4 linked regions of the Homo sapiens genome follow. The protein of the gene in region 1 interacts with the protein of each later gene in a pairwise test. Each region holds a gene or a part of one and is shown on either strand. Other genes may lie near its edges.

Region 1 (6,382 bases):
GTCTTTCAAATGAAGGGAGCCTGGCTGCTTCATTTTTATGGAGGGTTGGAAGTGCTTAGTGGCAGGCACAAAGGTTCATTTTACATATTGTTTATATCCTTCTCAAAAGCGTCTAGGCCATACAGACAACAAATCCTTTCAAACAAGGGGAAAAGTACAAAGGTTGGGTGATTTCTGGGGAGCGTCAGGGAAGGTAGTGGGGGGCATCCTGGCTCCTCATCAGCAGAAACTTACTACAGTAGAGCCACAGGCTGGGCAAAAGACCTCATGGAATCCAAGATGAAGGGAATATCGACAAATATTTGTGCGCACCTGCACCTAGTACAGGCTGGGTGCTACTCAGGTGCTGGGAATGCAGAAGTGAACAGAGTAAGACAAATGTCTCTGCTGTCAGGAGCTTTACCTCTCTTCTGGATGTCGGTGGTGGGGACGGGGCAGGTGTGGTCAGACAGATGGGAGACAAACAACTGAGCGAGGTACTTCCAAACATCTGAGGGTGGGGATCACAAGGTCCCGGCTATTTTGAAGGGGTGGTCAGGAAAGGCTTCTCGGAAGAGGTGGCATTTGAGCTGAGACTCAAATGGCAAAAATGTGTACACATCAAAAAGGCTAGTGCATGTATCTTCAGGTGTGGTCAAGGGGCCAAGGAGGTGGGCTGGGGCCAGATTGCATAGGTCCTTGTGGATTATGGTGAAGACACCAGCTTCTCATCTGCTTGAGGTGGGGAGATCGTGAGCCGGGGAGTGCCATGATCTGGCAGCTGCGTGGGGAGTGGGGATGAATGGATGGAGACGAGGATGATGGTGACAAGTCCATTGCTGTGGTTCCTTGAGACAGGAAGCCAGCTCATAGCAGAGTGCGGGCGTGGATGTGAAGAGATGAGGGTACACTAGGGCTAGAGCCACCAGACTTACTGATGGGTTGCATGTCTGTGGGAGAGAGAGTGAGAAGTCAGGGACGATGGCTTTCCACTCTGTGGCTGAAGCCCCAGGGTGGCGGGTGGTGCCATTTTTCAAGCCAGGAAATATTGGTTGGTGAGAATTTGGGGTGGGAGAAGGTGTGACGGAGGGTTCTGGTTTTGCACACTAAGCCCACGGTGCCCAGAAGATGCCCGAGGGGAGGCAGCAAAGCGAGAGTGGGAAATGCAGAGGTGGCAAGTGCAGGCCGTGTCTTGAGAAGCTCTAATGTGCAGGGGAGCCGAGAAGCAGGCGGCCTAGGGAGGGTCACGTGTGCTCCAGAAGAGTGTGTGCATGCCAGAGGGGAAACAGGCGCCTGTGTGTCCTGGGTGGGGTTCAGTGAGGAGTGGGAAATTGGTTCAGCAGAACCAAGCCGTTGGGTGAATAAGAGGGGGATTCCATGGCACTGATAGAGCCCTATAGTTTCAGAGCTGGGAATTTCTTTCCCTGAAGCTGAACTCCAGAGCTGCATTCAGCACAGGCACCGCCAGTTGTAAGGAGAATCCAGGTTTCCCAGGAGAGGGGTTGGTGCTGGGATGAGCTGACCGGGGCAGGGCTGGAAAATAGGGCTGTGACCATCTGTGTAGTGCGTGTGGAGGTCTCAGGGAGGGAAGTGTGCTCTCCCTGCGAGAGCTGCAGGCAACACTGGGAGCTCAACAAGTCTCCCTGTCCTTAGGGAAGACCTCAGAAGTGCTGAACGCTGCCAAGGTGCTTCTCATTGAGACACAGAGATGCAACAGCAGATATGTCTATGACAACCTGATCACACCAGCCATGATCTGTGCCGGCTTCCTGCAGGGGAACGTCGATTCTTGCCAGGTAATTCAACATTTTTATTCTACCTTTGGTCCTTACCAGATCCTACTGAACCCCCCATGAGAGAGAGGGCATTCTTGGGGTCAGCAGAGCCTCCTCAGTGACACGGAGCCAGCTCGGGGCAGTCATGGGAAGTGACGGCCACAAACAGTGCGAACGCTTCTGGTGGCAGAAGGAAGTACAGTCAACAAATCACACACACCCTCTGAAAAACCGGTATTTGGTAAAAGTGCCAGTGGAACAGAAACAAGTATTTAGACTATTTTAAATTATGAACGGCAATTTATTTAGTAACTTTTAGCTTGAACAGATTAAAATTCAGGATGGGGGCTATCTCTTTGGGGGTTACATCTCTGTTACCATCACCCCTTGATGGTGGAGATTCGAAGCCCACACAGTCACTCGTAACTCACACTGCGACCCCCGCCCCCCAACTCCTCTAGGCCTGGTCAGTGGTGTGCGGCAGATTGTGACTTGATTTTCTGCTCTCTGTACCTTGCTGTGTCCCACAGGGTGACAGTGGAGGGCCTCTGGTCACTTCGAAGAACAATATCTGGTGGCTGATAGGGGATACAAGCTGGGGTTCTGGCTGTGCCAAAGCTTACAGACCAGGAGTGTACGGGAATGTGATGGTATTCACGGACTGGATTTATCGACAAATGAGGGTAACTATCCTGTCCTCCTTCTGACTGTGTTCTCCGATTCCTCGAGCCAAAGCCAGACATCTGTTAGGCGTGGTTCTGCTGCTGGAAGCTGACTGGTGACCACTGGTCAGCATGAAGCAAACTCTGCTTCCTCCAGCCACAGCCCCATCCCCCCAGTGTCCACCCATTGCCCATTGCCTCTCACTGGCTTCACTTGCATATTTCCCCTGGTGTTTGGATGAAAAGCGCTGGGGCTCAGCTTGTGTGAAATTCCTTGGTGCTCTGCCAACCACACTTCGTTCTGGCTCAGCTGACTCAGCTGTTCCACCCAGGCCACCTCACATCAAACTTTTTTTTTTTTTTTTTGAGATGGAGTCTCACTGTGTCGCCCAGGCTGGAGTGCAGTGGCACAATCTCGACTCACTGCAACCTTTGCCTCCTGGGTTCAAGTGATTCTCCTGCCTCAGCCTCCCAAGTAGCTGGGACTACAGGCATGCGCCACCACGCCCAGCTACTTTTTGTATTTTTAGTAGAGATGGGGTTTCTCCATGTTGGCCAGGCTGGTCTCGAAGCCCTGACCTCAGGTGATTCACCCACCTCAGCCTCCCACAGTGCTGGGATTACAAGTGTGAACCACGGTGCCCGGCCTCACATGAAACTTTTGATTTATAGAGAGCAGAGGGAAGAGCCGGCTGTGCCCATCCTTTTCTGGGGCCATCGAGTGGCTCCTGGGCAGCCCCCAAGGTTAGGAAGGGCAGGAGCAGCCAGGGTTCTCTGATGCCCCAGACTCAAGCACGAGGGAAGGTCTCAGGGGTTCCATGTGAGCCTCATGGATGTCTCTGCTTAGCAGAGCCCTGGCTTTGGGCATTGTCCAGATAGGGGGTGAGAACCAGATCTTCTCATCTCCAGGACCTCAGACGTATAGTTTTCTCAGATTTCTGTGCTTTCTGGGGCTGGGCTACTAGTGGAAGAAAGCAGTCTATTCTGTCTTCTCCCAAATCTCCCAGATGCCCAGTCTGTTGAAGGAGGAGCAGAACCAGGGGGCCTTTCCCGCTGAGGCCCGACCTGTGTCTCCTTCAAATGACACGCGGGACTCAGGGCCTTCCCATGACCATGGGGCCCAGGGGGCGTCACCTGGCCCAGGGCCCAGTGCTAGAAACAGATGACCCCAGGAGGAGGAGGCAGGGCAGGAGGGAAGCTGGCAGGGCTGGGATGGTCAGCCAGGCTGAGGGGCGGACTCGCACCAGGATGGAGCTAGGAAATGATCCAGGTGTGTTTGGCGGCTGCAGGTGGGTCCGCATGGCTGTGCAGGGAGGGAAGGGCTGCGTGGCAGGAGAGCAGCCGGGGGAGGCCCAGACTCTGCTGAAGAGATGCCTGTTGTGCCGGCCTCCACATCCGCTGCCCGCTCCTTCCGGAGCTCCTGCCCCGCCATGCTCAGCCTGACTCTGACCAACACGTTGGAGAGAAGAATGATCCCTTTGTGCTATTAAGCTTGCTTATTTGGTTTCTAAGTGCTTCATGCGAACCTAGAGGAAAAAATTATTTTCCACCTTTGTTTGTCTTAAGAAAATAACACACTTTTTTTTTTCCTATTTGAACAGGCAGACGGCTAATCCACATGGTCTTCGTCCTTGACGTCGTTTTACAAGAAAACAATGGGGCTGGTTTTGCTTCCCCGTGCATGATTTACTCTTAGAGATGATTCAGAGGTCACTTCATTTTTATTAAACAGTGAACTTGTCTGGCTTTGGCACTCTCTGCCATTCTGTGCAGGCTGCAGTGGCTCCCCTGCCCAGCCTGCTCTCCCTAACCCCTTGTCCGCAAGGGGTGATGGCCGGCTGGTTGTGGGCACTGGCGGTCAAGTGTGGAGGAGAGGGGTGGAGGCTGCCCCATTGAGATCTTCCTGCTGAGTCCTTTCCAGGGGCCAATTTTGGATGAGCATGGAGCTGTCACCTCTCAGCTGCTGGATGACTTGAGATGAAAAAGGAGAGACATGGAAAGGGAGACAGCCAGGTGGCACCTGCAGCGGCTGCCCTCTGGGGCCACTTGGTAGTGTCCCCAGCCTACCTCTCCACAAGGGGATTTTGCTGATGGGTTCTTAGAGCCTTAGCAGCCCTGGATGGTGGCCAGAAATAAAGGGACCAGCCCTTCATGGGTGGTGACGTGGTAGTCACTTGTAAGGGGAACAGAAACATTTTTGTTCTTATGGGGTGAGAATATAGACAGTGCCCTTGGTGCGAGGGAAGCAATTGAAAAGGAACTTGCCCTGAGCACTCCTGGTGCAGGTCTCCACCTGCACATTGGGTGGGGCTCCTGGGAGGGAGACTCAGCCTTCCTCCTCATCCTCCCTGACCCTGCTCCTAGCACCCTGGAGAGTGCACATGCCCCTTGGTCCTGGCAGGGCGCCAAGTCTGGCACCATGTTGGCCTCTTCAGGCCTGCTAGTCACTGGAAATTGAGGTCCATGGGGGAAATCAAGGATGCTCAGTTTAAGGTACACTGTTTCCATGTTATGTTTCTACACATTGCTACCTCAGTGCTCCTGGAAACTTAGCTTTTGATGTCTCCAAGTAGTCCACCTTCATTTAACTCTTTGAAACTGTATCATCTTTGCCAAGTAAGAGTGGTGGCCTATTTCAGCTGCTTTGACAAAATGACTGGCTCCTGACTTAACGTTCTATAAATGAATGTGCTGAAGCAAAGTGCCCATGGTGGCGGCGAAGAAGAGAAAGATGTGTTTTGTTTTGGACTCTCTGTGGTCCCTTCCAATGCTGTGGGTTTCCAACCAGGGGAAGGGTCCCTTTTGCATTGCCAAGTGCCATAACCATGAGCACTACTCTACCATGGTTCTGCCTCCTGGCCAAGCAGGCTGGTTTGCAAGAATGAAATGAATGATTCTACAGCTAGGACTTAACCTTGAAATGGAAAGTCATGCAATCCCATTTGCAGGATCTGTCTGTGCACATGCCTCTGTAGAGAGCAGCATTCCCAGGGACCTTGGAAACAGTTGGCACTGTAAGGTGCTTGCTCCCCAAGACACATCCTAAAAGGTGTTGTAATGGTGAAAACGTCTTCCTTCTTTATTGCCCCTTCTTATTTATGTGAACAACTGTTTGTCTTTTTTTGTATCTTTTTTAAACTGTAAAGTTCAATTGTGAAAATGAATATCATGCAAATAAATTATGCAATTTTTTTTTCAAAGTAACTACTGCATCTTTGAAGTTCTGCCTGGTGAGTAGGACCAGCCTCCATTTCCTTATAAGGGGGTGATGTTGAGGCTGCTGGTCAGAGGACCAAAGGTGAGGCAAGGCCAGACTTGGTGCTCCTGTGGTTGGTGCCCTCAGTTCCTGCAGCCTGTCCTGTTGGAGAGGTCCCTCAAATGACTCCTTCTTATTATTCTATTAGTCTGTTTCCATGCTCCTAATAAAGACATACCCAAGACTGCAATTTACAAAAGAAAGAAGTTTATTGGATTTACAATTCCACATGGCTGGGGAGGCCTCACAATCATGGCAGAAAGCAAGGAAGAGCAAATCACATCTTACATGGATGGCAGCAGGCAGGGAGAGAGTTTGTGCACAGAAACTCCCATTTTTTAAACCATCAGATCTTGTGAGACCCATTCACTATCACAAAAACAGCACAGGAAAGACCCACCCCCATGATTCAATTATCTCCTATCAGGTCCCTCCCACAACACATGGGAATTATGGGAGCTACAAGATGAGATTTGGGTGGGGACACAGAGCCAAACCATATCATTCTGCCCCTGCACCCCCCAAATCTCGTATCTTTACATTTCAAAACCAATCAGGTCTTCCCAACAGTCCCCCAAAATCTTAACTCATTTCAGCATTAAGTCAAAAGTCTACAGTCCAAAGTCTCATCCAACACAAGGCAAGTTGCTTCCACCTATGAGCCTGTGAAATCAAGAGCAAGTTAATTACTTCCTAGATACAACGGGGGT
Region 2 (7,028 bases), on another chromosome or scaffold:
AGGAGAGTTGCTTGAACCTGGGAGGCAGAGGTTGTGGTGAGCGGAGATCGTGCCACTGCACTTTTGAGACTCTGTCTCAAAAAAAAAAAAAAGAAAAGAAAAAAGAAAGAAAGCATAACAACTTATCAGACCTGTGATTCCTTTTTTTTTTTTTTTTTTTTTTAACAGACAGGATCTTGCTGTGTCACACAGGCAGGAGTGCAGTGGTGCAATCTTGGCTCACTGCAGCCTTAACCTCCTGGGCCCAAGTTATCCTCCTGCCTCAGCCTCCTAAATAGCTGGGACCACACATGTGCACTACCATGCCCAGCTAATTTTTTTTTTCTTTTTTTAGTGATTGGGGTCTCACTGTATTGCCCAGGCTGGTCTCTAACTGCTGGTCTCAAGTGATCTTCCTGTCTTGGCCTCCCAAAGTGTTGGGATTACAGGCATGAGCCACATGTCCAGGCAATTCCAACATTTTTATTGCTTAGGATGAGCCTCAAGTAAGTGGCAGGAAGTTTTTTGACACCTTTATACAGTCCTTGCACATGACCTGGGCATACCCTCAATGTCTTAGTAACTGTTTCTGTCTGACCTGTTCAGAAGTACGGCAGCCCTGGGTGACATGGATCACAGGTGTGTGTGCCCGCACCTACTACTGCACTGAGACGTTGAAACCCTGAACATGGCACAACTGAAGTTTGGGAAACTCTAATCTAAAATAACATTAACTTGAGCCTCTATAATCAATGTTGCAAATGTATCTCCAGGTCAAGACCTGTGAGACTGGGATGGGTAGCAGCAGCACAGCTGGCTGTGAAGAGTGGCGCACAGCACTCAGGGCAGGTGGCCTCCACCAGCTGGATGCCTGGAGCTGCTCCTTCTGTTCTATGGCCTGTGGCTGTGGCCTCCAAGCCTCTGCCCTTCTCCCTGCCTTCACTGGTAGCCCTGCCAGGGAGCTAAGCCTGCGCATCTCCCAGAGTCTGGATGTGTGAAAGGTTGAGGATAATCCCTTTCTTCCCCTTCGAGCCAGTGTTGCAACCCTACCCCCAAGTACAGAGTTTAAGCCCCTAGCCTGGCTCCTTCCCAAAATGCAGCTCCTCTTGGGCTTCCAGATTCCCCAGGCAGATCCAGTTATTGGCCCCTTTTTTTCCACCTGTGCTGCATGTTGATGGAAATGTGAAGATGATCTGCCAAAAGAGGAACTAAGACTTGTCCAAACCGAATGCAAATTCAGTATAGCTCAGGTTAAGTAGAGCGAGATACAGATAGAATGAGATGGGAGTGGAGGTAAAAACACTTATGAATAGAAGAAGGTCTATAGGCAAAGTACTCTGGGAGTGTTTTTGTTTGTTTGTTTGTTTTATTGTTTTTAAAGACATATATATATATAAGCAGTTATATATTATATATATATTATATATAATATATAATAGCAGTTATATATAGAGAGAATAGCAACTATATATGTAATAGCAGTTTTAGGTTCATGGCAAAATGGAGAAGGAAGGCCAGAGATCTCCCATATAGCCCCTTGCCCCACATGCATAGACTCCCCATTATCAACTTCCTCCACCAAAATGGTACATTGTTTTTTTACAACCGATGAGCCTTACATTGACACATCATTATGACCCAAAGTCTACAGTTTACATGAGGGTTCACTCTTGGTGTTAAACATTCTATGCGTAATAACATGTTTCCACCGCTATAGCATAGTATAGTATAGCATAGCATAGCATTAGCATAGCATAGCATAGCATAGCATAGCATAGCATAGCATAGCATAGCATAGCATAGCATAGCATAGCATAGCATAGCATAATAGAGAAGTTTCACTGCCCTAAAAATCCTCTGCATTCTGCCTCTTCATTGCTCCTTCCCCTCTGAACCCCTAGCAATGACTGACTTTTTGTTTTGCCTTTTCCAGAGTGTCACATAGCTGGAATCATACAATATGTAGCCTTTTCAGATTGCCTTCTCTCACTCAGTAATGGCACTGAAGTTTCCTCCATCTCTTTTCATGGCTTGATAGCTCATTTCTTTTAAGTACTGAATAATATTCCAGTGTCTGGATGTACTACTGTTTATTTTATTCACCTACCGAAGGACATCTTGGTTGCTTCCAAGTTTTGGCATTACGTATCATTCTGTATAAAGCCACTCAGCTGGGCGCAGTGGCTCACACCTGTAATCCCAGCACTTTGGGAGGCCGAGGTGAGTGGATCACTTGAGGTTAGGAGTTCGAGACCAGCCTGGCTATCGCTAACATGGTGAAACCCCACTTCTACTAAAAATACAAAAATTAGCCAGGCATGGTGGCAGGTGCTTGTAATCCCAGCTACTCGGGAGGCTAAGGCAGGAGAATCGCTTGAACCCGGGAGGCGGAGGTTGCAGCCAGCTGAGATCGCACCACTGCACTCCAGCCTGAGTGACAGAGTGAGACTCTGCCTCAAAAAAAAAAAAAAAAAAAAAAAAAAAAGCCTGTGTAGGTTTTTGTGTAAACACAAATTCTGAATTCATTTGGGAAGATACCAAGGATTGCAATTGCTGGATCATATGGTAAGAGTGTGTTGAGTTTTGGAAGAAACTGCCAAACTGTCTTCCAAAATGGCTATACTGTTTTGCATGTCCACCAGCAATGAATAGGTGTTCCACATTCTCATCAGCATTTGGTATTGTCAGTGTTCTGGATGTTGGCCATTCTAGTAGCTGTGCAGTGATATCCCATTTTTGTTTTAATTTGCATTTCCCTAGTGACATAAGATGTGGAGAATCTTCTCATATGCTTATCTGCTACCTTTGCATCTTCTTTAGTGAGGTGGCTGTTCAGGTTTTTTGCCCATATTTAGTGGGGTTACTTATTTATTTATTTATTTTTTGAGAAGGAGTCTCGCTCTGTCTTCCAGGCTGGAGTGCAGTGGCCCGATCTCAGCTCACCGCAACCTCTGCTTCCCGGGTTCAAGCGATCCTCCTGCCTCAGCCTCCTGAGTAGCTGGGACTACAGGCATGCGCCACCATGCCCCGGCTAATTTTTGTATTTTTAATAGAGGCGGGGTTTCACTATGTTGGCCAGGCTGGTCTCAAACTCCTGACCTTGTGATCCACCCGCCTCAGCCTCCCAAAGTGCTGGGATTACAGGTGTGAGCCACTGCGCCCGGCCTTATTTTCTTGTTGTTGAATTTTAAGATTCTTTGTCTGTTTTGGATAACAACTGTTTATTAGATGCATCTTTTGCAGATATTTTCTCCCAGTCTGTGGCTTGTCTTATTCTGTTGACATTGCCTTTCACAGAGTAGAAGTTTTCAATGTTAATAAAATCCAGTTTATTATTTCTTTCATGGATTGTACCCTTTGGTATTGTATACAAAAAGTTGTAAGCATATTCAAGGTCATCTAGATTTTCTCCTATATTATCATTTATGAGTTTTATAGTTTCGCATTTTACATTTAGGTTTATAGTCCACTTTGAATTAATTCTTGTAGAGGGTGGAAGGTCTGTGCTTAGATTCATATTTTTACACGTGGATGCCCGGTTATTCTGGCACCATTCGTTGAAAAGACTATCTCTGCTACATCGTATTGTCTTTGTTCCTTTATCAAAGATCAGTTGGGTCTATTTCTGGGTTCATTATTCTGTTCCATTGATCTATTTGTCTATTCTTTGTCCAAAACACATTGTCTTAATTATTGTAGCTTTACAGTAATTTTTTTTTTTTTTTGAGACAGAGTCTTGCTCTGTCACCCAGGCTACAGTGCAGTGGCGCAATCTCGGCTCACTGCAACCTCCACCTCCCAAGTTCAAGCGATTCTCCTGCCTCAGCCTCCCGAGTAGCTGGGATTACAGGGGCCCGCCACCACATCTGGCTAATTTTTGTATTTTTAGTAGAGATGGGGTTTCACCATCTTGGCCAGGCTGGTCTCGAACTCCTGAACTTGTGATCCACCAGACCCTACCTCCCAAAGTGCTGGGATTACAGGTGTGAGCCACCATGCCTGGCCGCTTTACAGTAATTCTTCAAGTCGGGTAGTGTCAGTCCTCTGACTTTGTTCTTTTCCTTCAGTATTTTGTCACCTATTTTGGGTTTATTTTATTTTATTTTATTTTTAGACAGAGTCTCACTCTGTCTCCAGGCTGGAGTGCAGTGACGTAATCTTGGCTCACTGCAACCTCCGCCTCCTGGGTTCAAGTGATTCTCCTGCCTCAGCTTCCCAAGTAGCTGGGACAACAGGTGCCCACCACCACGCCCAGCTAATTTTTTGTATTTTTAGTAGAGATGGGGTTTCACCATGTTGGCCAGGATGGTCTCGATCTCTTGACCTCATGATCCACCCACCTCAGCCTCCCGAAGTGCTGGGATTACAGGCGCGAGCCACTACGCCCTGCGGGTCTTTTGCTTCTCTATATAAACTAACTATACAATTAGTTTGTTGATATTCACAACTGATTTTGATTGGGATTGTTTGAATCTATAGTGAGTCCTCTTATCCATAAACATGGAATATCTATCTATCTATTTATTTTATATTTATTTATAAATTTATTTATTTATTTATTAAGATGGAGTCTTGCTCTGTCACCCAGGCTGGAGTACAGTGGCACAATCTCAGCTCACTGCAAACTCCGCTTCCCAGGTTGAAGCAATTCTCCTGCCTCAGCCTCCTGAGTAGCTGGGATTACAGGTGCGTGCCACCATGCCCAGCTAATTTTTGTATTTTTAGTAGTGACAGGGTTTCACCATGTTGACCAGGCTGGTCTCGAACTCCTGACCTCAAGTGATCCACCCGCCTCAGCCTCCCAAAGTGCTGAGATTACAGACGTGAGCCACCGCGCTTGTCCCCTTCATTTATTTAGTTCCTTGATTTATTTAATCAGTTTTGTAGTTTTCCTCATAATAGATATTGTACATATTTTGTTAGATTTATACATAGGCATTTCACTTTTTTAGGTGCTAATGTAAATGGTAGTGTTTTAAGTTTCAGATTCTACTTGTTCAGTGCTGTTTCATAGGAAAGTGATTGCATTTTATGTATTAACCTTGTATCCTGCAACCTTGCTATAATTGCTTATTAGTTCCAGCAGATTTTTGGTCAGTTCATTTAGATTTTCTACATAGACAATCATGTCATCTGCAAACAGAGATAGTTTTATTTCTTCACTCCCAATCTGTAGTCCCTTCATTTCCTTTTTCTGAAGGAACTACATTGCATTTACTAGGACTTCCTAGCAAAGACTGGGAAACTGCTAAGACTTGTTCATACTGAATGCAAATTCAATGTATGAAGCAGTGGTGACAGGAGACATCCTTGCCTGTTTCTAATCTTAGTGGGAGTGCTTCTACTTTCTTATCATTAAGTATGATGTTAGTTATAGGCTTTTTGTAGATATTCTTTATCAAATTGAGGAAATTATCTAGTGTACTGAGAGTTTTTATCATGAATGGGTGTTGAATTTTGCCAAATACTTTTTCTACATCTATTAATATGATCATGTGATTTTTCTTTTTTAGTCAGTTGGTGTGATTAATTACATTAATTGATTTTCTTTTGTTTTTATTTTATTCTCTTTTTTTTTTTTTGAAATGGAGTTTGGATCTTGTTGCCCAGGCTGGAGTGCAATAGTTGATCTCAGTTCACTGCAACCTCCACCTCCCAGGTTCAAGTGATTCCCCTGCCTCAGCCTCCCGAGCAGCTGAGATTACAGGCGGGTGTCACCACGCCCGACTAATTTTGTATTTTTAGTAGAGACAGGTTTCTCCATGTTGGTCAGGCTTGTCTTGAACTCCCAACCTCAGGTGATCCACCCACCTCGGCCTCCCAAAGTGCTAGGGTTAAAGGCGTGAGCCACTGCACCTAGCATTAATTGATTTTCAAATGTTGAACCAGTCCTGCATACCTGGACTAAACCCCAGTTGGTGTGGTGTATAATTCTTTTTTTTTTTTTTTTTTGAGACGGAGTTTCACTCTTGTTGCCTAAGCTGGAGTGCAATGGCATGATCTCGGCTCACCGCAACCTCTGCCTCCCGGGTTCAAGCAATTATCCTGCCTCAAGGTCCGGAGTAGCTGGGATTATACGCATGTGCCACCATGCCCGGCTAATTTTTATATTTTTAGTAGAGACGGGGTTTCTCCATGTTGGTCAGGCTGGTCTCGAACTCCTGACAGGTGATCTGCCCACCTCGGCCTCCCAAAGTGTGGGATTACAGGCGTGAGCCACCGTGCCTGACCCCATCCATTTACTTTTAATCCGTATGTGTCTTTTTTTGTTTGATACAAGGTCTTACTCTATCACCCATCACCCAGGCTGGAGTGCAGTGGCACCATCTTGGCTCACTGCAGCCTGAAATGCCTTGGCACAAGCAATCCTCCCACTTCAGCCTCCCAAGCAGCTAGGACTACAGGCACAAACCACCACACCCAGCTATTTTCTTATTCTTTGTAGAGATGGGGTCTCACTATATTGCCCAGGCTAGTCTTACTCCTGGCTTCAAGTGATTTTCCCATTTCAGCCTCCTAAAGTGCTGGGTTACAGGGGTGAGATACCACACTCAGCTGATCTATATGTATCTTTATGGTTAATGTGAGTTTCTTGTAGACAACATACAGTTGAGTCTTCTTTTTGTGTCCATCCTGACAATTTCTGCCTTTCAATTATGCACTTAGACCATTGACATTCAAAGTGATTACTGATATAGTTGGATCTACCACATTTGTTACTGTTTTTCTATTTGTTACCCTCATTCTTTGCTCCTATTTTTGTCTTCCACTTTTTTTTTTGCCTTTGGTGGTTTTAACTGAGCATTTTATATGTTCCTGTTTTATCTCCATTCATAGTGTATCAGTTGTACTTTTTTTTAACTTTTTTTAGTTATTGCCCTGGAGTTTGCAGTTTACAAGTACAACAAATCCAAGTGCACTTTCAAATAACACTATACCATTTCATGGATCGTGTGAGTACCTTATGATAACAAAACAATCCTAATTCCTCCATCCTGTTCCACGTATCATTGCTGGCATTCATTTTACGCACATATATGTATACATAT
Region 3 (7,028 bases), 3.4 Mb from region 1:
TTCTCAGGCTTGAAATACCTTTTCAAACTCAGCTGAGACAGACTACCCTGTCACTTCAGTTCATTATGGTTAATATTATAAATTGTTAATAAATTCTAAGTCACAGATAGGAACGTGTGGCTGAAAGGAGACTTGGAGAGGGCGGGACCCTGTGGGGTGGAGGCAGGGCCACAGGCTCTCCACACGCCAGGAGCCAGCAGCCTGGCCGAGGCGGCTTTCCTCCTTATGCTCCTGTGTCCTGAGGTTGTTCCCCAGGGGCGAGGGAAGGCTGCTGTGCTGGGTGGGTTCTGTGTCTGGGGCGGCCCTAACTCCAGGTGCTTGAATCTCCAGTGAACTTTGAGGCGCTGATCATCACCATGTCGGTAGTCGGGGGAACCCTCCTCCTGGGCATTGCCATCTGCTGCTGCTGCTGCTGCAGGAGGAAGAGGAGCCGGAAGCCGGACAGGAGTGAGGAGAAGGCCATGCGTGAGCGGGAGGAGAGGCGGATACGGCAGGAGGAACGGTGAGGTGGTGGTGATGCCCGCTGGGAAGGTTACTTCGAGGGGATTCAGATCTGCAAGGCCATGGAAATCACATGGATACATCCTGAGTTTTCCTCAGTTTTTAGAAATTAAGAATGTGTATAGTGCCCAGGGGATCTTCTAGGTCGTGGTAGAGAGCGAGAGACTGTGATGGGAACCTAGCAGTGGCTGCGAACCTTGCTTCTATAGGCTTCCTCGCCCGGTGTCCTCCCATCGGTGCAGTAAGGCTGAGTCTGTGCGCGGTGACACGGGTGTGTGACGGCTGCTAAGGCGGCTCGTCCAGGCCCAGCATTTGCCAAGAGCAAGCTGAGGCTCAGAGGGGACAGCGTCTGACTGTGGCTGGGTCAGCTCTCCTGTCGCCCTTTCCCTGGTGACACAGCACTCTCCTGAGTGCTTGCTGGGGCTCTGGGGCAACCCCAGGAGGAGGTGGTGTAATCCACACCTGGCAAAGGAGAGGACCTGAGGGGCCAACTGTCAGGTTGGCGGCGGGCGAGGGTGGAAGCGGGACAGATTTTCCATGTAGTCACCTTGAAGTCACATGCTACTAAGTAAAAGCTGACAATCGCATTTTCCTCACCATCTTCAGAACCTGGTGTATGATTTTTACTGTGTTTTCTTTGTATGAAAAAAGCTTTTTAAAAATCACGGTATTGGGCATTTGAATTGCTTTTATTGAAAAGAGTAGAGTAATACATTGGAACGGCCTTTGAAGACTGGGTTCGTTGTCACCTTGCCTGTCCTGGTGGGTATGTGGCCTGATGACCAAGCTTGTCCTCACCCTGGTTTCACTCTGGGAACTGGAGGGAAGCCACCAGAAGAAACCTGGCGCCCCCACTGAGGGACACGGAAGGGCGTGTCTAGCAGTTACACCACCGTGCGCTGTCGTTTGGTGCTCATAATGTTCCTCTGTGTTTTAGGAGAGCAGAGATGAAGACAAGACATGATGAAATCAGAAAAAAATATGGTAAGGACTGGTCACGCCTCCTTTTTGTCTGGTTGGGAGGCGATGGCACGCTGTCTCGGTCCTCGTTAGTGCCAGTGTGGCCTGAGATGGGGCTGTGGGTTCACCCATCGGAACAGAAGGACGTCTCTCCAGAGAGGAGCAGCTGGCGGTTGTCCCCAGCGGTTCTGTGGTGAACTCACTCCTAAGAATATCTTTATCTCAGCCAGTCGTCTTCATGAAGTCTGTTTTCTCAGATAGCTGTTTGCTTATCGAGTCCCAAGACTTCTGGGCTGGAAGTCTGCAGCTGTTCTGCCGTCGTGTTTGGCTTCCTGTGGGCACGCCTGCGTAGCCGAGGTGCTGTGAGTTTCAGGGCGGCCCTCTCATCCTCGGGAGCGTTGCTCGTTGCCATCTTCTGAGTGTGGCAGGCGCTCCTTCCAAGCACTCCCCAGCACCGGCCCTGCTCCTTCTCGCCCAGCCTCGGCGTTCTGTTCTTGTTTGGTTGTGTCTGGAGAGATTTTGGAGAGGAGCTTTGAAGGAGCCAGAATGAATGTATTTGCCAAGTGTAAACCTTTTATTTAGTTGGAGTGAATTGGAAATACACATTACGTTATCTATACTCCCCCAAACCACGTGATGTTCACTGCTTAACACTGAACACCACCACCCAGCCGTGCTTCGTTGATTCTGTATGATTTTAAAGTCCGCAAAGAGTCTAGTGTCTCCCGCGCTGGGTTTGTGGTTGTGTGGTGTCATGGGCGTCTCCCGCGCTGGGTTTGTGGTTGTGTGGCGTCATGGACATGGTGGGAACTGACTCCTCGCCTGTGCGAGGTGCGTGGTCCTGGGTTCATGGCAGCCGTGGGCCTCAGGAATCTGTCGTCCTGCGCCCACGGTGCTTTCCTTGAAGCAGTATATTAAAGGCTAAACCTAATTGGAAAATTTCAGAGCCTTTTCTGACTAATGCACGTGTTTTGAGTCTTCTGTTTGTTTTAGGGAATATCATATATTTGTGGTATTTTAGGGTCCCACCCACTGGGGGCATGAGGACGTCGCTGCGGTTCTCGGTCATCGGGTGGGGGGTGGACGGCAAAGCCCAGCAGCCACTGTGAGCGGCGCCTCCGTCAGGTGCAGGTGATTGGCGTTGGGTTCCCTCTCATGGGGGCTGCAGAGGCCCCATGCTGCTGGTGCCCTGGACTGTAAACGCTGGGTGGCTCTGCCCACTGGCCGGGACGTCCCCTCCCTGTCAGTTCTGGCCTCCTTGGAAAGTCACCTCCATGTGACTGTGCTGTGACCTGAGGCCACGTGAGTCCTGCCGGTCTCGAAGTGTCGGCTTGGGGGCGTGAGGCTGCCTTGGCTGCTGGCCTCGAGATGCCCAGTGGCTGATAGAGGCTTTTTCCTATGTGTTCCCGCCCATCAGTCTCCTGAGTGCCGTGTGCTTGGGCGCTGACTCTCTGGGTTCTCTTCACTGCTGCCTTGTCCTTGCCCCACCCTCTCTGTCGCCTGTTGTTTCCCGGTGTGTGTCTGGAGTGGGTGGTGACCGGGTACCTGCGTGTGACTGTCATAAGGAGCAGCACCAGGGTTGCCCTCCTCAGCGAGTGCATGCCTGTGTACGTGGAGCGTGGGCCCAGCAGCATCTCTGCAGGCCTTGGCTGGAGGCATTGTGCTTTCCTTGAAATGGAAGAGTCAAGAGCTTTTTGGCACCTAATTTTTTTTTTTTTTTTTTTTTGAGACGGAGTCTCACCTTGTCGCCCAGGCTGGAGTGCAGTGGCGCGATGTCAGCTCACTGCAAGCTCTGCCTCCCAGGTTCACACCATTCTTCTGCCTCAGCCTCCTGAGTAGCTGGGACTACAGGTGCCCACCACTACGCCCAGCTAATTTTTTGTATTTTTTAGTAGAGATGGGGTTTCACTGTGTTAGCCAGGATGGTCTCAATCTCCTGACCTCGTGATCCGCCCGCCTCGGCCTCCCAGAGTGCTGGGATTATAGGCATGAGCCACCACACCCAGCCAGACTAATGTTAATGTAAATAAAAGACAAGGTGGATACACACACACGCACACGCGCACACACGCACACACTGCCCAGCACCTGTTATCACCAAGCACAAGCTGTGTTTAAGTTGCTCGACCTTTACTGTGCCCTGACTCCCAGCGGGTGTGAGGCTGTGGGTGGCCGGCCAGGCTCTTGGAGTGGTGTCTTCTGTGTCAGGGCCCTGATTGACTTGCACTTGCCATTTTGGTGGTTAATTTGGCCCTTTAATTGCATTGATGAAATGAGCTTTTTGTGCCAGTTTGTAATAAAGCCATTGAATGGCCTGTGCTTTGGAAAGCCTCGGCTAGTTAGAAGAATTCCTAGGAATTCCTGATGGGAGAGTGCGAGAAAGCATGTGAGTCCACCTGGTGCAGTTATATAAAATACCAGCACGCACGCAAAAACCCTTCTTTTGGTTTTGGTTTTCCCTCTAAACTGGAAGTAGACTCAGGAGCGAGTTTTTCAATAAGAACTTAACCAGCCTCCTTGCTAGTATCTGATGACTCTTTCCCAAAACCGACTTTGAGCCTCACTCCCAAAGCCTGATGCCTGTGGCCCTCCTTGACAGGCAAGAAAGAAACATGGCTAGGCCCTTCCTTACCATCCCTCTGCTTCCCCGCCGCCTCTTCCACCCAGCCCCCAGAATACATGCAGTGAGTAGCTTTGTTGTAATCGCTGCAGATAATTTTAGTGTACAATACAGATTGTTAAAGGGAGAGAGAGGCCAGGCACGGTGGCTCACGCCTGTAATCCCAACACTTTGGGAGACCAAGGTGGTGGATCACCTGAGGTTGGGAGTTCGAGACCAGCCTGACCAACATGGTGAAACCCCGTCTCTACTAAAAATACAAAAATTAGCCAAGTATGGTGGTGGGTGCCTGCAGTCCTAGCTACCCGGAGGCTGAGGCAGGAGAATTCCTTGAACCCAGGAGGCGGAGATTGCAGTGAGCCGAGACTGCGCCATTGCACTCTATCCTGGGCAACAAGAGCAAAACTCTGTCTCAAAAAAAAATAAAAAATAAAGGGAGAGAGAGTGTGTGTATGTGTGTGTGTTTCTGCAGTGTGAAGGGAAAACTCCTGGTCTTTGGGTAAGTAGCACAGGTTTACTCTTATGATTAAATACACATTTTATCCCAGTTTTGTCAGAGTACTCGAGAGTTAGATTGATGGTCATCTTAGTTCTTTCTGTAGCCTTAATTCCAAAGGTTTAAGAGCAGCTATAAGCACAAAGTAAGGTTATTTTGTTTAATAGTAGCCATCCACTGTGGAACTAGCCAACCACTGTGGAAAGAAATACTTGCCTTAAATTTCTTTTCTTCGCCGAGCATCAGGAAGTAAGTGCTTATCTCTTAGGATCTGTTAGAGTTCTTGTTTCTAGTAAATTTTATTTCAGTTTTAAAGTTTAAAGTGGTTTGACTTCAAAAAAGGTTAAGCACTGTATGAGAGCCTGCTTACAATGCCCGTTGTTGCTATAGCCTCAGTAAATCTTCTTATAAAGCTTGGTTTGTATGGCTTTCTAAGATTTTGTTTCTGGTTGAATGAATGAAGTTATGATTCAAGTTTATTTTGTTTCAGGCCTGTTTAAAGAAGAAAACCCGTATGCTAGATTTGAAAACAACTAAAGCGCTCCAGCACATCAGTCCCGACGCTTCCTGTGAGGTGCACGCTCCGCAGCCCAGCCCAGCCGGGAGACCACGTGGCCATTGCGGTCTCCTGACCTTGGCCAGTGAACCTGCCAGCCTTCCAGGACAGGCGGCCGGAGAGCTGCCCCTGAAGGACAGTCCTCTCGTCTTGCAGACTGGTGACCTTCTATTCCCTGTTCATCTCTGTTTCTAGATTTAGTCACTTGAAATAAGAAATCTTTGGGGTTTGGGCTTTTTTATACTCTTCTCAGTTTGTGAAACGCTAACTGCACACGAAGCCGCCTGACGGCACCCAGCGCTGTGGCTGTCATTCTCCCAGGGCAGAACCCTGCGTTTCTCTCTGTCCACTAACAAGCTTCACACGCAACACAGGGAAGTCGGTTTGACTTTTGTCATGAGGAGAACTGACCAGCCCTCATCATTCCCCATAAAACCACGGACAGCGTCTGTGTGCGCATCTTGAGTCTTCACACCTGTTGACTCACACGGCTTTTGCTGATGACACGGGGCTCCAGTACACAGTCTGATAAGGACTTAACGTCCTAACCTCAATTGTATTAAATAGCATTGGGGAATAGCTAAACCTTTTTAAAAAAATTTATTGGATTTTCCTCCCTGCTTAAAAGATTTCACCAGAAAACCTTCATATAAAAATTCAGGCCCTTTTTGGACAATTTTTAAAATTTGTATCTTTACTAGAACATGAGAATCTTTTTCCCTTGGAAGCTTGAATTATAAATGTGGTGTTTGGCCTGCCTCAGCAGCACCAGTTGACTGCTCGTGTGCCAGCGGTGTGGGGAGGACGGGGCAGGACGCTGCAGCTCTCTCCAGCCCTGTTGGCATCCTCAGTGCCTGCAGGCCTCTCGCTGCCTGTTGGGCTGTCTGGGGGGTGGCCATTTAGGGATCGTGGGGACGGGGTCCACCCCAAGAAGAAAGAAAGGCCCGTCCACAGGCCCGGCTCTGGGCCACGTGCCCCGGAAGCAGGTGTGTCCAGAGTCAGCTGAGGGCTCTCCCCACACCACCCAGCAGGCGCTGGTGCTCCTTCTGCCTCATGGGACCAGTCCAGCTTCCAGCCGCTCTGGCTCGAGGGTGGTCTGACCACTTCCTTCTGAGTGGGCTTCTCTGGGAGCTCTCCAGTGGCACTGCTGGACCTGCCCACGTTTCTGTAAAATCAGGATACGTGGCTTTAGTAAGCAGACCAAGCGCTTCGTGGCAGGGAAAGCAGCGTGCGGGGAAGTCACTGAAAAGTGCTGCCTAAGGAAGTTTGGAAATAGTCCCTGTTCCAGATTGCCTTGAATTTTAAAACATTTTGCTTTGGGAAAGTAGGTCAGCAGCACCTAAGATCAAGGATGCGTTCCATTTTCACACTTCACAGTCATGAAAACTGAGAAGACTGTCTTCAGCGTGAACTAAAGTTCACAGGCAGATCACTGATCCAGAACACTTCAAGAACTCGTCAAACAGCTCGATAAGCCTTTTTGACTGTGTACATCTGTACCGGGAATAACATTCCTAGGCTGAAATTTCCACAAAGAATAGAACCTGTACCCAGTTCTTCAGGCTGATTTCCCTGACCTCTTGGGCATTTGTATTTGTAGTAAAGTATTGCAGAGATTCCTAAGTATTTTATAGCAGCCATCAAAATTGGACTTTGTATTGTTTATTCATAAAAGACACTTGGTAATAGACTTCAGTGAACTCTGTATGAATGCAGTAGTGTGTGTGCAAAATCCGCTTCCTGAGCGTAGGGTGCTGAGCTGGCGCTAGGGCTCGGTTGTGAAATACAGCGTAGTCAGCCCTTGCGCTCAGTGTAGAAACCCACGTCTGTAAGGTCGGTCTTCGTCCATCTGCTTTTTTCTGAAATACACTAAGAGCAGCCACAAAACTGTAACC
Region 4 (7,028 bases), on another chromosome or scaffold:
TAAACCATCTTCCCACCTTGTCCTCCAAAGGTGTTAGGATTACAGGAGTGAGCCACTGAGCCTGGCCTAAATGTGATCTTAACATTTAATTTTTGCTTATGTTGCTAAACTGCCTGGGGAAAGCTGCTTCATCCTGGTTGGATTTACCAGTACTCCTCCCCCTTGAAGCTATGTCAGAAGGAATCAATTATCTCTTTGATTTTTAACCTAAGGTCAACAACTGTTTTGAATTTATCTTTATGACTGCAACAAGTAAGTGGCATAAGGATGTGCCACCACTACCAAGAGTCAATCTATTGAGAAATCAAGTTATTCCTGTGCCAACAGGTTATTTTAACAAATATCATCTTAAAGTGTTATTTCCCATTCTAATTTCCAAAAAAAAATACATGAACAAGAAATGGGAAGCAACAACAGTTAACTTGTGAGTCAGCAGTATCCTGATTTTCTTCGAAGAGGTTGTGGTTATATTAACTCCTTTCTTGTTTGTTTCCTGTTCTTAACAGCTGTTTGATGATAAAGTGCTTCCAAGAAACAGTACTCCCTCAATTGTTTAAATTGTTTTGATCTACCTAGTGTACTTTTCCCCTAAAATTCATGATGAAATGGTAGAGTAAATCTATCTATATCTCTCTCCCCAAGTTCTGTTTAACTAGATAATTGATTATCCTCAAACTAAATATCCATGTCTATGTGCTGAGGTATTAACACATGATTCAATATGATATTAAGGTAAAAATGGAATAAATAGGCTGAGATAGCTGAAAGACTTGGGCTGCCTGTGTTTCGAGGAGCTATTTAGTTTTTGTTGTTGTTTGTTTTGTTTTGTTTTTTGAGACAGAGTCTCCCTTTGTCACCCAGGCTGTAGTGCAGTGGTGCAATCTCAGCTCACTGCAACCTTCACCTCTGGGGTTCCAGCGATTCTCCTGCCTTAGCCTCCATAGTAGCTGGGATTACAGGCAGGCGCCACCACGCCTGGCTGATTTTTTGTATTTTTTGTGGAAACGGGGTATCACCATCTTGGTCAGGCTGGTCTCAAACTCCTGACCTCAGGTGATCCGCCCACCTCAGCCTCCCAAAGTGCTGGGATTACAGGTGTGAGCCACCACGTCCGGCCTCAAGGAGCTGTTTTCACAGAGACAAACTTGTTCCATTGGTTAAGCAGCTGAAAGGAATGGATTGTCTTCTAGAATTTCCCAAGATAAACCTTTCCTCTTACCAGTGAGGAACAATTTTACAAATAGAAATTAATATTGCTGGTGTGTAGTTTCCCACAGAATATTTTTGTTACATTTTTATGGGGTAACACATGACAAATCCTATTCATGTAGTTTAATAAGCAAAATAAGCCTAAGAGATTGAGCAAAGGTTTGCTGACCAGTGTCCATACCCTACAGGTAAGTATTATTTACTTAATTTTTATAGGCCTGTTATGTGCTAGGCACCATGGTAGGTGTTGGGAATATATTGGGTACAACTTTCAGTTTCTGCTTTTATTTTTGAAATGCTAAATATTTTTCTGAGTATTTGAGATATTTGAAAAAGACACCCAGACAACATCCTGGTGTGTTTTTCAACACACAATAAAAAGGTACGACAAGATAATAGAAAGCTTTTCTGATTATTGAATTTAGGAAAATACATCATTCGCTTTAGAGTGAGTACCAAAGACTTAAGAAAAGTTAAACATTGGGAAATACAGTAAATTAAACATCTAGAAAAGACTTACCAGTTTTCAGCCTTTAGTCATAGCATGCTTTGGTCTCACTTGAGCATTGTAATTCTAGAGTAGTAAGTATTTTCACCATTTGGGCTTGTTGATTGTAATTGTGGGCTCCTTTCTACTATTTCTGTTCTAAACAGAGGGGATTGTTTGGTAAGGTAGGTGTCCCTCTTTTTGTTTATTTTTCCCTCCCAACAGAGAAAGTGCTAAATAAGTAAAGATTATTTTAAATGTTTTTCATTAACTTATAAAAACTGCCTAGATCATTGTTTTCCCAGAGAATTAAAAACCTTACTCCTATATGTAAATGACTTTTTCAAGCAAATAAGTTGGTGTGGAAAAGTCAGCATCTACCATTTTTTTTCTGTGGTAACAAGTGTATCATCAAACATTGAAACCTTTTGGGAATGTTTAAAACCTTCTCTTGAGGGTAAGTAAAAATTCAAACTGGGAAGAGAGTCTTCCAGCCTTGGCAGAGATACAAATTTAGTTTACCTTGTGAAATCTAACACTTCAGGATATTTCCATTGTAATTTTGTCATTACGGAACATAAGGCTTTTTTCTTTGTAACTTTGTGCATCTTTTGAATGTTGACGTAGCAGATAAGATAGCTATAGGACATGACCACATTTTTCTTTTAGAAGACTGGTTGATGTGAATGGCTGACATAATTGATTTTATTTAATAAATATCTTTTAAAGTCACAGATAGTATTGTTTTAAAAATCAAATGGTATAGACGGACTTACTATGAAAAGCATTAGTCATTTTCTGCATTTCACCCTCTTTCCTCTGCTACTGGTTTTGCTCTGTCACCCAGACTGGAGTGCAATGGTGTGACCTCGGCTCGCTGCAACCTCCACCTCCCAGGTTCAAGCGATTCTCCTGCCTCAGCCTCCCAAGTAGCTGGGATTACAGGCGCCTGCCACCACATCCGGCTAATGTTTTTGTATTTTTAGTAGAGACTGGGTTTCACCGTGTTGGCCAGGCTGGTTTTGAACTCCTGACCTCAAGTGATCCGCCCACCTCGGCCTCCCAAAGTGCTAGGATTACAGGCGTGAGCCACCGCGCCCGGCCTAGTGTCAACGACTTTTAACTTTATTTTTAGTACTGCTAGTGATGCTCCGTATCTCTTAAATATGTTACTGCAAAAAGAAAAGAAAAGAACAGAAATATGTTACTGCTGTTTGTTGAATAACTTTAGACATCTATTGACTTGAATGTAAATGAACTAAATACTCGTGTATACCTCTTTCCTTCTATAGTTTTCACTGTTTTGTTGCATTGTTAACCAGTTGATCTTTACCTTACCTCAACTTCTATTTCTTACTCCATCACCAGAGGGAGTATCTCTAGATTTCTTACTTTTAAAATGAGGATATTGGACTCACGTGATTCCTTGGAAAAACTAAAACTAAAGTTCATGGCATATGTTAAAATACGTAGTTGCATAAAAGGGCATTCACCAAGTTCAGTGTTTGAAAACATATGCCGAGCTATATGAGAAGGGCATAGTATAGATATGAAACAAATCAAAAGATTGCATAATTCATTTACGGGACAAGTTATTGAATAGACTTCTTTAAGTGGCTCAGGAATTGTGGCATCAAACTATTGAGAAGGAAATATGAAAGACAGCACACCACCTGACTCTGCTGAATCATGAGTTTAAATATTATTGATTTACTATTATTTACGGTCTAGAATCAACCTCTATCCAAGGGACAGAAAATTTAATTATGAGTCTGTAATAAAGAACATTTTTATTTCTTACCCCACTTCAAATTTTTTAATATAATCCATAGTATGAAATATATTTTCAATCATAACCTGAGATACTATACATGCAACTGAAAACAAGTATTTTCACTGAACAGTATCCTTACTATAAACAGTATTTAACTTTCCCAGAATATATGTAGTCTGAGTATTCTCTTTTCTTTAAAAAAAAAAAAAAATTGCAACCCTGTAAATGAATTTCATGACCAGACCATTGTACTAAACATCAAGTATGAACTAATATATAAGATTATTACGCCTTTTCAGTGGATAAAAAGTAAAGTGGAAATTAAGTTATACATTTTTCTCTCTTCATAGGACATTGGCTCCCTGGATTATCAAGAGTTTGTAGTTGACATTGAATCCAGGCTGAGGATGGAAGGTGTGGAACTTAAAGAAGAATGGCAAGATGAAGATTTTCCGATGTGAGCAATGCTTTTAAAAGAAAACAATTTTAGAGCAAAAGTTCAAAATTTCTTTATCGAGATGTTACTTTTTTTTTTTTTGAGACGGAGTCTTGCTCTGTTGCCCAGGCTGGAGTGCAGTGGCGCGATCTCAGCTCACTGCAACCTCCGCCTCCTGGATTCAAGCAATTCTTCTGCCTCCACCTCCCAGGTAGCTGGGACTATAGGTGTGCGCCACCACGCCTGGCTAATTTTTGTATTTTTAATAGAGACGGTGTTTCACCATATTGGCCAGGCTGGTCTCAAACTCCTGACCTCGTGATCTGCCTGCCTTGGCCTCCCAAAGTGCTGGGATTACAGGTGTGAGCCACTGCACAGCTGAGATGTCACTGAGAAACTCAGTAATACAAGGCGATCATTTGATACTAGGAAGTAAAGTTTCTTCGGAACAGTTAGATTGATTCTCTTGTATCTTACTTTCCAACCAAGTATATATATAATCTTCTATAATCTTTCATTTTTGTTTTGGTCACTTAAGTTTGCAAATTTTTGCTTTTATAATAAAGTGTTTTAGTGTGGTTTGTTTGTTTTGTTTTGTTTTTGTTTTCATTTAAACAAGATCTGAGGGATTCCTCAGAGAAGGAGGTCTTTAGTTGTCTTTAAAATGTTTCTTTAATTTTGTGGCCAGGTGCGGTGGCTCACGCCTGTAACCCCAGCACTTTGGGAGGCCGAGATAGGCAGATCACTTGAGGCCAGGAGTTTGAGACCAACGTGGCCAACATGGTGAAACCCCGTCTCTACTAAAAATACAAAAAATTAGCCAGGCTTGGCGCTCGCCTGTAGTCCCAGCTGCTTAGGAGGCAGAGGCACAAGAATCACCTGAACCCAGGAGGCAGGGGTTGCCGTGAGCCAAGGTCGCGCTGCTGCACTCCAGCTTGGGCGACCGAGCAAGGCTCTATCTCAAAAAAAAAAAAAAAAATTTGTGGGTTCCCCCCCACCAAAAAAAAAAAAACCTTACTAAGTAAATTAATAAGGATTTTCTAGCTTATCTGGCCAGCCACCTTGACATGTTTGCATTTGTATTTACAATTATATTGGCACCAGGTAGGCTAATGAAAAAGAGAGCAAAGGCAGACCTTAAGTTTAAATAGTGCTTCCGTGCCGTACTTGTCAGAAGACATCCTAGTGCATAATCAGGTGCCTTAGCAGTTGGATAGCTTAGCAGTTGGACAGCTGATCGGAGACCTGAGTCACTGTTGCATATGGTGGTGATAGTAAATATAGGAATGCTGATCTCAGAAGAATTGAACCATTGTTACTGTAGTCTCGTGAGTAAAAATTGAGCTTCATACATTGCATCATACATCACATTATATTTGTGCATTTCAGTCATATTTGTTTAAAATTGTTACATGTTTTATAATTGTATAAGAGCTGTTGCATAAGGAATTTATATCTACTTTTATGTGTTACTTATATATAATAAGTGTATAAGTCAGCTCTGACAGTCAGAATTTTTACTTTGAAAGTGTAGCCAGGCATAGCACGTCACGCCTATAATCCTAGTGCTTTGGGAGGCCGAGGCAGAAGGATTGCTTGAGACCAGCCTGGGCAACATAGCAATATCCGGTCTCTACCAAAAAAACTTTTAAAATTAGCTGGGCATGTTGGTGTGCCACTGTAGTCCTAGCTACTCAGAAGGCTGAGACTTTATCTTAAACACTGCTAGGCTGGGCACAGTGGCTCATGCCTGTAATCCCAACACTTAGGGAGGTCAATGCACGAGAATCGTTTGAGCCCAAAAGTTCAAGGCCAGCCTGGGTAACATAGCAAGACCCTGTCTCTACTAAAAATTAGCCAAGCGTCGTGGCACGCACCTGTAGTCTTAGATACTCGGGAGGATCTCTTGAGCCCAGGAGTTAAGGCTGCAGTGAGCCATGATTGTGCCATTGTATTCCAGCCTAGGTGACAGACAGCAAGACCCTGTCTCAAAAACAACAACACTGCTTTATTCCATTTTCCAAATAATTATTTCTATAAGCTGTATGTTTAATAGATTGAACTTCAAAAAAAAATTCTTTCTTAATTTCTGGATTAAAAAGTATGCCTGTGTCTTCTAGACCTTTACCAGAAGATGATAGTATTGAAGCAGATATACTAGCTATAACTGGACCAGAGGACCAGCCTGGTAAGAGCTTGACACTTACTTTCATTGAAATTATGGACTTTGTGTTATTTTTTAAAACACGTTTCTTTGTCCAAAAAAAAAAAAAACTTGAGTTTTTATTCCATCATAGAAGTCAAAGTATAAGTTGAACATTGAGGAAAGCATTTTTAGAATGCTTTAAAAAAAATTCCAAAAACATACACTTGGTTTTTGGAAAGTTTTACAGTAAAGGGGTGGAGGAGATCATTTTTAGTGGTAAGAGGTATCTATAAGGTCTGCCTCTATTTAAAAGACATTGATACTTTATTGATCTCTTGCCAACGATGTAGAAGCAATAATGATCAGAATAAAAATTTTGTGAATAGGTGCTTTGAAATTATGTTCAATTAATATTATTTTTTCCCAAGAATGGGGTAGTTAAAATTTTTCTTATTCAACTTTAGCATCTAAGCATTCCTTGTTACGTATCTTTTTCTTTATTTTCCAATTCCAGGCTCACTAGAAGTTAATGGAAATAAAGTGAGAAAGAAACTAATGGCTCCAGACATTAGCCTGACACTGGATCCTAGTGATGGCTCTGTATTGTCAGATGATTTGGATGAAAGTGGGGAGATTGACTTAGATGGCTTAGACACACCGTCAGAGAATAGTAATGAGTTTGAGTGGGAAGGTAAATGTTTCACTGTTTTTAATCTGATCTTTATTAATGTACTAAGGGATTTTGTTTGAAATACATCATTCTTTCTAAAGTTCATATATTTGTTACTAAGATAGGAAATTGTGCTAACCCTTGAATATTCTCAAGGACTTAAAAAGTGTGTATAGAGTACACCAGTGGCTTTTTTCCCCTCTTATTTGCCCACTGCTCTCATGTTTTTTTCATAGCTGTTTCAAAAATATTTCTTGATAATTATGGCATGCTCTTTTTTAGTCAATCAAGTAAGAAACTTTTGAA

Evidence for each region.
Region 2: the proteins of TMPRSS2 (region 1) and NINJ2 interact in binary tests that used the Homo sapiens proteins (3 or more experiments, as listed by UniProt).
Region 3: the proteins of TMPRSS2 (region 1) and PTTG1IP interact in binary tests that used the Homo sapiens proteins (3 or more experiments, as listed by UniProt).
Region 4: the proteins of TMPRSS2 (region 1) and BNIP2 interact in binary tests that used the Homo sapiens proteins (3 or more experiments, as listed by UniProt).

What each region holds. Positions count from the first base shown.
Region 1 is NC_000021.9:41,463,789-41,470,170, reverse strand, and holds the end of TMPRSS2 (transmembrane protease serine 2), read left to right. Parts: intron 1-1,632; coding exon 1,633-1,775; intron 1,776-2,284; coding exon 2,285-2,437; intron 2,438-4,017; coding exon 4,018-4,029; coding exon of another isoform or gene 4,030-4,051; 3' UTR 4,052-5,866; downstream 5,867-6,382. UniProt on the Homo sapiens protein: Plasma membrane-anchored serine protease that cleaves at arginine residues. Participates in proteolytic cascades of relevance for the normal physiologic function of the prostate.
Region 2 is NC_000012.12:653,425-660,452, reverse strand, and holds part of NINJ2 (ninjurin-2), read left to right. Parts: intron 1-7,028. UniProt on the Homo sapiens protein: Its role in unclear. In contrast to NINJ1 paralog, does not mediate plasma membrane rupture (cytolysis) downstream of necroptotic and pyroptotic programmed cell death.
Region 3 is NC_000021.9:44,849,667-44,856,694, reverse strand, and holds part of PTTG1IP (pituitary tumor-transforming gene 1 protein-interacting protein isoform 1 precursor), read left to right. Parts: intron 1-330; coding exon 331-502; intron 503-1,438; coding exon 1,439-1,485; intron 1,486-5,067; coding exon 5,068-5,114; coding exon of another isoform or gene 5,115-5,328; 3' UTR 5,329-7,028. UniProt on the Homo sapiens protein: May facilitate PTTG1 nuclear translocation.
Region 4 is NC_000015.10:59,679,307-59,686,334, reverse strand, and holds part of BNIP2 (BCL2/adenovirus E1B 19 kDa protein-interacting protein 2), read left to right. Parts: intron 1-3,820; 5' UTR 3,821-3,877; coding exon 3,878-3,927; intron 3,928-6,026; coding exon 6,027-6,094; intron 6,095-6,566; coding exon 6,567-6,743; intron 6,744-7,028.